Linked DNA regions of Homo sapiens. The protein of the gene in region 1 purifies or fractionates together with the protein of each later gene. This does not show direct contact. Each region holds a gene or a part of one and is shown in the gene's direction. Other genes may lie near its edges. The genes, in order: ATF7IP and GTF2E2.

Region 1 (3,823 bases):
ACATATGTTTCCTATATATAGTATTCATATAATATATACTATATATAAACTAATAGGATATATATATTTTATATATTATATATGTATTAAACTAATAGGGTATATACATAAAATATATACTACATATAAACTAATTGTATATATACTTTATATCCTACTATATATATACAGTATATCTTAATTATATATAAATATTAAATATATGTAAAATACTTTATATATAGTGAATGTTTATATATATAAAGGGGAGTTTATTAAGTATTAATTTACATAATCAGAAGTTCCCACAATAGACTGGGCATGGTAGCTCACGCCTGTAATCCCAGCAGTATGGGAGGCCAAGGCAGGCAGATCACTTGAGGTCAGGAGTTCGAGATGAGCCTGGCCAACATCGTGAAACCTCATCCCTACCAAAAATACAAAAATTGGCTGGGTGTGGTGGCACAAGCCTGTAATCTCACCTACTTGGGAGGCTGAGGCAGGAGAATCTCTTGAGCCCAGGAGGCGGAGGTTGCAGTGAGCCGAGATCATGCCACTGCACTCCAGCCTGGGCAACAGAGCCAGACTCTGTCTCAAAAAAAAAAAAAAAAAAAAAAAGATCCCACAGTAGGCTGTCTGCAAGCTGAGGAGCAAGGAAGCCAGTCTGAGTCCCAAAACTGAAGAACTTGGAGGCCAATGTTCCAGGGCAGGAAGCATCCAGCACAGGAAAAAGATGTAGGCTGGGAGGCTAAGGCTAAGCCTGTCTCTCCTTTTCACGTTTTTCTGCCTGCTTTATATTTTCTGGCAGCTGATTAGATTGTGCCCACCAGATGAAGGGTGGATCTGCCTTCCCCAGTCCACTGACTCAAATGTTAATCTCTTTTGGCAACATCCTCACAGGCCCACCCAGGGTTAATACTTTGTGTCCTTCAATCTAATCAAGTTGACACTCAGTATTAACCATCACACATATGTTGTAGTTTTGCAAAATGTGACAGCAAGGGAAAATATAGCTATTTAAAGAAACACAGTAATGCTATCATTTAGAAAATAAACTGATTGGAGTCCCTGGATCATAGCTTGGCTTCAACTCTCTCAAGTTTACAAGAGCGTTGTCTGGGAAAATTAATCAACAAGGTTAGAAATGAGTTCTGGGAAACTTGGCTCACTATAGTCCAGGAACCAGGCCGAACTACAGCATGGGCCAGGTACTGAATAAATGGCAGGAATATAGTTAGGGCAGTAGGTGGCTCTAAATTTTCTCTTTTTGTTTCCCTGGTGTATGTCACAGCAGTTTTCTGTGGGGTGAAGTGAGTATCCTCAACCAAGGAGCTGGGCATGGAGAAAATGAGAGGAACCTCATTAATACATGGCAAGGATGACTTATTCTGGCTTTCTGTCCTGGTTGAAAAGATGAGACTGCAGAGATTTTTATGAAGATACTCCCAGTTTGTCTGTCTTTTGAGTCACACTGCTCCATTATGGCCATTTACCTTTTACATGTGGTACACAACCAGTGTTCTAGGATTTTTGTTCATAGTTCTCCTGGTAACGATCCATTTATTTCTCCCTGTGCTGGACCTCCTGTTGCTTGTGTCTCGTGTTTTTCTCTTTATTTTCTCACGTACTGGTGGCACATATTCTCCATTGACTATTTGAGAAAGGGTTTGTGGTAGTTAGAATTTTTTTTTAGTGCTTGCATGTAAGAAAGTTTTTTTATCCACAGGCTGATTGATAGCTTGGCTGAATACGAACAGGACCTCTAGGTTAGAAATATCTTTCCTTTCGAATCTTGAAAACATTGCTTCACTGCCTTCAAATATTTAATCAGTTTTCCACCAAATTTACAATAGAATTATCATTTTATCCTGTAATTTTTTTGTTTGTTTGTAGGTGTTACAGTTCGAGTGCCTCAAACAACCACATATGTTGTAAACAATGGACTAACCCTGGGATCAACAGGACCTCAGCTCACAGTGCATCACCGACCACCACAAGTGCATACTGTAAGTGTTGATGCTTGGTTTTGCAAAATTCTCAACTGTAGAGGTATAAAATATTATTGTATTTGGCATTTTTCTTTAAAATGGTTATATCCAAGGGAAGTGTTAGGTCTTCCTGCTTTTTCAGAAGTTTATTTCTAAAAATTGATCTTACCATTATGAACACATAGTTCCTAGGGATGATGATCATTTAGAATCATTGAGTTTGCTTGTGGTGTACAGTGTACAAAAACAGGTCCACAGTTGGGGTATATGAAGTGAAATATAGACCATTTCTAATTCATAGTTAAATTAAAAAGGACATTTTTCATTTCTCCATGTGTTAATTTTATTCTTTCGTTCTAAACTATGCCACATCTAACTGCTACATTGTCATCAATTAATTGTTCTAAAGAATCCAATGATATTGGGAATTCATTAGTTAAGAGGTAACAGAGATAACCAAAGATTTCTCCTTAGATTTAGCCTCCAAAACAATGTCACATTATCCTGTGACACAATTTTGTCAGTGTTTGACTGGTATGAAATATCATTATAATGATGATGATGTTCCAGTGTTAGAAAAGTCAATAGGACTTCCTAAAGTTAGAGTCATGTTTTTTCATCATCTGGCCTTAACCTACCTTTCCAGATTTTTCTTCATGTACCCTATGTCCAAGAAAAAGTTAATACTTGTTCTTGTCCATACGTCCCCTCACTTTACTGTCCACATGCCTTTGCTCATGCTTTATTTTTGGCTGAAAGGTACATGATTATTTCTGCATCTCTGGATCCTCCTTCACAGTTGAGTTTAAATATCACCTTTTTCTTGTAAATTGGCCAAGAATATAGTACACATTTAGTGTTAATGTGCTTATTTATAAATAACTTAAAAATGAAAGTATATTTGTATTCTCCAATTTTATATGATCTTGGTTGCCATACATGATATTTAAAAATGTTACATCATACTGAAATGATAATCTGTAACATAGATAATTCAATCATAAATTATTTTGTTAGAAATAGATCATTACTTCCGTGTTCCTCAAAATGATGTTCCGTCAGCAGGGGCTTTTTATTTCCTAAGAAAAACTCAAAATATTTTAGGTCTAGGAAGTATAGTAGGAATAACCTCAGCATCATTGTTTGTAGCATGATTCATTACAAAACCCCAAATAGAACTTGCCAAATTTGATATGGTATTTGGTATTTCCTAGAATTCTTGATATAAAATGATACTTCTACGTATGTTCTCTAAGGTGTTTTAATTCTAACATTCTAAAATAGTTCTTTTTGCAATCATCATTAATCAGTGTGACCTGTTTCTTCAGGAGCCCCCACGCCCCGTGCACCCAGCACCCTTACCAGAAGCTCCACAACCACAGCGTCTGCCCCCAGAAGCTGCCAGCACATCTCTGCCTCAGAAGCCACACTTGAAGTTAGCACGCGTTCAGAGTCAAAATGGCATAGTACTGTCATGGAGTGTCCTGGAGGTGGATCGAAGCTGTGCCACTGTTGATAGCTACCATCTCTATGCTTACCATGAGGAACCCAGTGCCACTGTGCCCTCACAATGGAAAAAGATTGGGGAAGTCAAGGCACTTCCCTTGCCCATGGCATGTACTCTCACCCAGTTTGTATCTGGTAGCAAATACTACTTTGCAGTACGAGCCAAGGATATTTATGGACGTTTTGGGCCTTTCTGTGATCCTCAGTCAACAGATGTGATCTCTTCTACCCAGAGCAGTTAAACCTTGGAGCCTTTATATTTTCCTCTTTTAAAATTTCCACCTTTTGGTCTTGTTTTTAATCTTGTGCATGATACCCCATGTAAAATCCACCTTGTGCAAGATTTCTTG
Region 2 (3,823 bases), on another chromosome or scaffold:
ACTAGTAAGGGTTATGTTCCTTACTTTATAATGCCAGTATGTGATAAGCTGTACTTTGCAGATGGAGTGGGCACTACTCAGTTCACTTTGTCTATTAATATTTGTAGGTGTTTTATTGATTCCTACACATTTTGACTACTAGAAGAATATGGGTTCAGCTTTTTTCAAAGTAGTTGTGATAAAATGGTTTATTTCTCTTCAAAGAATTTATGTAAATAAAACACAGTTTCTTTTATAAAAAGTGAGCACCGTGCTGATCTACTGTTCTGGAATTCTGGATGTCCAGGATTTTAGGCCTGCCAGTTTGTATTCATAAGGTACTTTTAATTTGCCACTGTATTGGCTAGTGTTGTATTTTAAAATAATTAGTAGAATTAAGAATGTGTATATGGGCTGGGCACAGTGGCTCACGCCTATAATCCCAGTACTTTGGGAGGCTGAGGTGGGTGGATCACCTGAGGTCAGAAGTTCAAGACCAGCCTGGCCAATGTGGTGAAACCCCGTCTCTACTAAAAATACAAAAATTCGCTGGGTGTGGTGGTGCGCACCTGCAGTCCCAGGTGCTGAGAGGGAGGGAGGCAGGAGAGGGAGGCTGAGGCAGGAGAATCGCTTGAACCCAGGAGGCGGAGGTTGCAGTGAGCTGAGATCACGCCACTGCACTCCAGCCTGGGCGACAGAGCAAGATTACGTTTCAAAAATATATATATATATTTATGTTCCATTTGTTAATATATTCCAATTGTATCACTGTTACAGGCTTTAGTCAACAATCCCAAAATTGAAGTAATAGATGGGAAGTATGCTTTCAAGCCCAAGTACAACGTGAGAGATAAGAAGGCCCTACTTAGGCTCTTAGATCAGCATGACCAGCGAGGATTAGGAGGAATTCTTTTAGAAGACATAGAAGAAGCACTGCCCAATTCCCAGAAAGCTGTCAAGGTAATCTCTCTTTTCTTTCTATGTCTTAATATAATTTGAATGAATAATGACTTCTTGGTTTTAAAAATATCAAACATTTTACAATTGTTTTTAAAGCTTCTATTATATACACATGGGTTACAGTGAGCCACTTGAAGGTTTGAAATTTGTCTTGTGCCACCTAGCAGGAAAGGGAGCAGCCATCTCTGTGTAACTTTGACGGGTTCTTGTTGCTGTTACTATATGATTGTTTGATTGTTCAGGCTATTTCTGGAAAATTTTCCTCAAAGGCAATAGAGTTTCTCTTGTAAGCTCTGTTTGTAAATAAGAGTGTCTTCTATAATACTAGTAGATGTTCCTTACCTGAGGAACTAGAGGCATTAAAACATGAAAGCATTGGTTAATAACCTGGCTGTTTTGAAGTCCTAAAGGGGCTATCTATGAAAGTCCTACTGATACAGATGACATTTCCAGTTTAAATTTGAAACTCACTGGGGAAAGCTGCTTGTTTCCATTTGTCACAGTTGCTCATTATTAATGTTAACTTGTTAAGCAGGTTCATTCATTTTGCTGCCTGTAGAAGAAAACTTGCCCCTTTGTCTCTTCTTCTTGGTAATGGAATTATACATGTCAGATCTTCTGGTATTGTACTACAAGTCCCTGAGGCTCTGTTTATTTATTTCAATTTTTTTTCTGTTCTATTAATCCATTGTCAAGTTCACTCACTTTTCTTCTTCACTTCCAACTTGTTAAGCCCAGTTGGTGAATTTTTTAATTGTATTTTTCAGTTCTAGTCTTTCTTTGTAAATTTTTCTTCTGGTTTCTGTTTCTTTGCTGAATTTTGTTTTCTTTTTTTTCCATTCGTGACAAGTATCTTTTGTTACACCCTTAAGTATGATTTCTTATAGCTGCTTTAAAATTCTTCTTATTCTAACAGCCGAGTCATCTCAGAGCTGGTCTGCATTGACTGTCTCTTTTATGGGTCATATTTTCCTGTTTCTTCATATATCTAATACATTTCTGTTGGGTCTTAGACCTTGTGGATTATATTAATATGTGTAAAGACTCAGGATTCTGTTACATTCCTCCCAAGAGTGTTTCTATTTGTTTTGTTTTGTGGTTAAGTGGGCAGTTACTCCAAACCTTGTCTGCCCTACAGCAGGTAGCATATGATATGTCTCTTCTGTTCTTCTAGCCTTAGCCCGTTTGCTTGGAATCTTGGAATCTTTTTCCAAGACTGGCTTATTTCACTTAGCATAATATTCTCAAGGTTCATCCATGTTGTACTTGCAACAGGATTTTCTTCCTTTTTAAAGCTGAATAATATTCCATTGTGTTTTTGTTGTTGAATTGTGGGAGTTTTAAAAAATATATTCTGGATATTAATTCCTTAACAGATACATGATTTGCAAATATTTTCTCCCATTCTGTAGGTTGCCATTTTACTCTGTTGATTGTGCTCTTTAATTTGCCAGTTTCTGAGTTTGCTGCACTCTTGTCTATTTTTGATTTTGTTGCCTGTGCCTTTAGTATCATGTTTAAATCACTGCCAAATCTAATGTCATGAAGCTTTTGTCCTATGTTTTCTTCTAGGAGTTTTATAGTTTTGGGTCTTAGGTATTTAGAGTTAATTTTTGTATATGGTGTAAGAGTCCAACTTTATTCCTTTTCATGTGGATATCCAGTTTTCTCAGTGTCTTGATGAAGAGACCGTCCTTTGCCCATTGAATAGTCTTAGTCTTGGTACTCATGTGGAAGATCATTTGACCATATATGTGAAGGTTTATTTCTGGGCCCTCTATTCTGCCTGTATGTCTTTCTTCATGCCAGCACTACAATGTTTTGATTAATGTAGCCTTTTTTTTTTTTTTTTTTTGAGACAGAGTCACACTGTCACCCATGCTGGAGTGCAGTGATGCAATCTTGGGTCACTGCAACCTCTGCCTCCCAGGTTCAAGCAGTAGTCCTGCCTCAGCCTCCTGATTAGCTGGGATTATAGGCACACACCACCACACCCAACTAATTTTTTTATTTTTGGTAGAGATGTGGTTTTACCATGTTGGCCAGTCTGGTCTCGAACTCCTGACCTCAAGTGATCTGCCCACCCTCGGCTTCCCAAAGTGGTGGCATTCCAGGTGTGAGCCACTGCACCTGGCCTGATTAATGTAGCTCTGTAATATATTTTGAAATCAGTAAGAGTGAGATCACCAATTTTGTTCTTTTTCAAGATTGTTTTGGCTATGTATTAGTCTATTCTTGCAATGCTATAAAGGAATGCTTGAGACTGGATAATTTATAAAGAAAAGAGATTGATTTGGCTCACAGTTCTGCAGGCTCTCCAGGAAGCATGATGCTGGTGTCTACTCAGCTTATGGGGAGGTCTCAGGAAACTTATAATCATGGCAGAAGGTGAAGGGGAAACAGGCTCATCTTACATGGCCGGAGCAGGAGCAAGAGAGAGTGGGGAAGGTGCCACACACTTTTAAATGACCAGATCTCATGAGAACTCATTATCAGGAGAACAGCACCAAGAGGGAAATCCACCTTCATACCAGTCACCGCCCACCAGGCCCCACCTCCAACATTGGGGATTACAGTTTGACATGAGATTTGATGGGGACACAGATCTAAACCATTTCAGGCTTTTTGAGGTCCCTTGAGATTTGATATAAATTTTTGGATGGATTTTTCCATTTCTGCAAAAAATGCCATTGGGATTTTGATAGGGATTACCTTGAATAGGTAACTTTGGGTAGTATTGCCATCGTAACTGTATTAAGTTTTTTAATACATGAGCACAGAATTCATTTATTCATGTCTTTAATTTTTTTTAGCAATGCCTTCAGGTTCTTTCATTTATTTTATGTATGTACAATTTGACTGTCCCTTATCTGTAATGCTTGGG

The links.
Region 2: the proteins of ATF7IP (region 1) and GTF2E2 purify together in Homo sapiens (affinity purification with western blotting, with the first as the bait; one study listed by BioGRID). This does not show direct contact.

Annotation. Positions count from the first base shown.
Region 1 is NC_000012.12:14,494,359-14,498,181, forward strand, and holds part of ATF7IP (activating transcription factor 7-interacting protein 1), read left to right. Parts: intron 1-1,872; coding exon 1,873-1,985; intron 1,986-3,295; coding exon 3,296-3,715; 3' UTR 3,716-3,823. UniProt on the Homo sapiens protein: Recruiter that couples transcriptional factors to general transcription apparatus and thereby modulates transcription regulation and chromatin formation. Can both act as an activator or a repressor depending on the context.
Region 2 is NC_000008.11:30,609,415-30,613,237, reverse strand, and holds part of GTF2E2 (transcription initiation factor IIE subunit beta), read left to right. Parts: intron 1-756; coding exon 757-939; intron 940-3,823. UniProt on the Homo sapiens protein: Recruits TFIIH to the initiation complex and stimulates the RNA polymerase II C-terminal domain kinase and DNA-dependent ATPase activities of TFIIH. Both TFIIH and TFIIE are required for promoter clearance by RNA polymerase.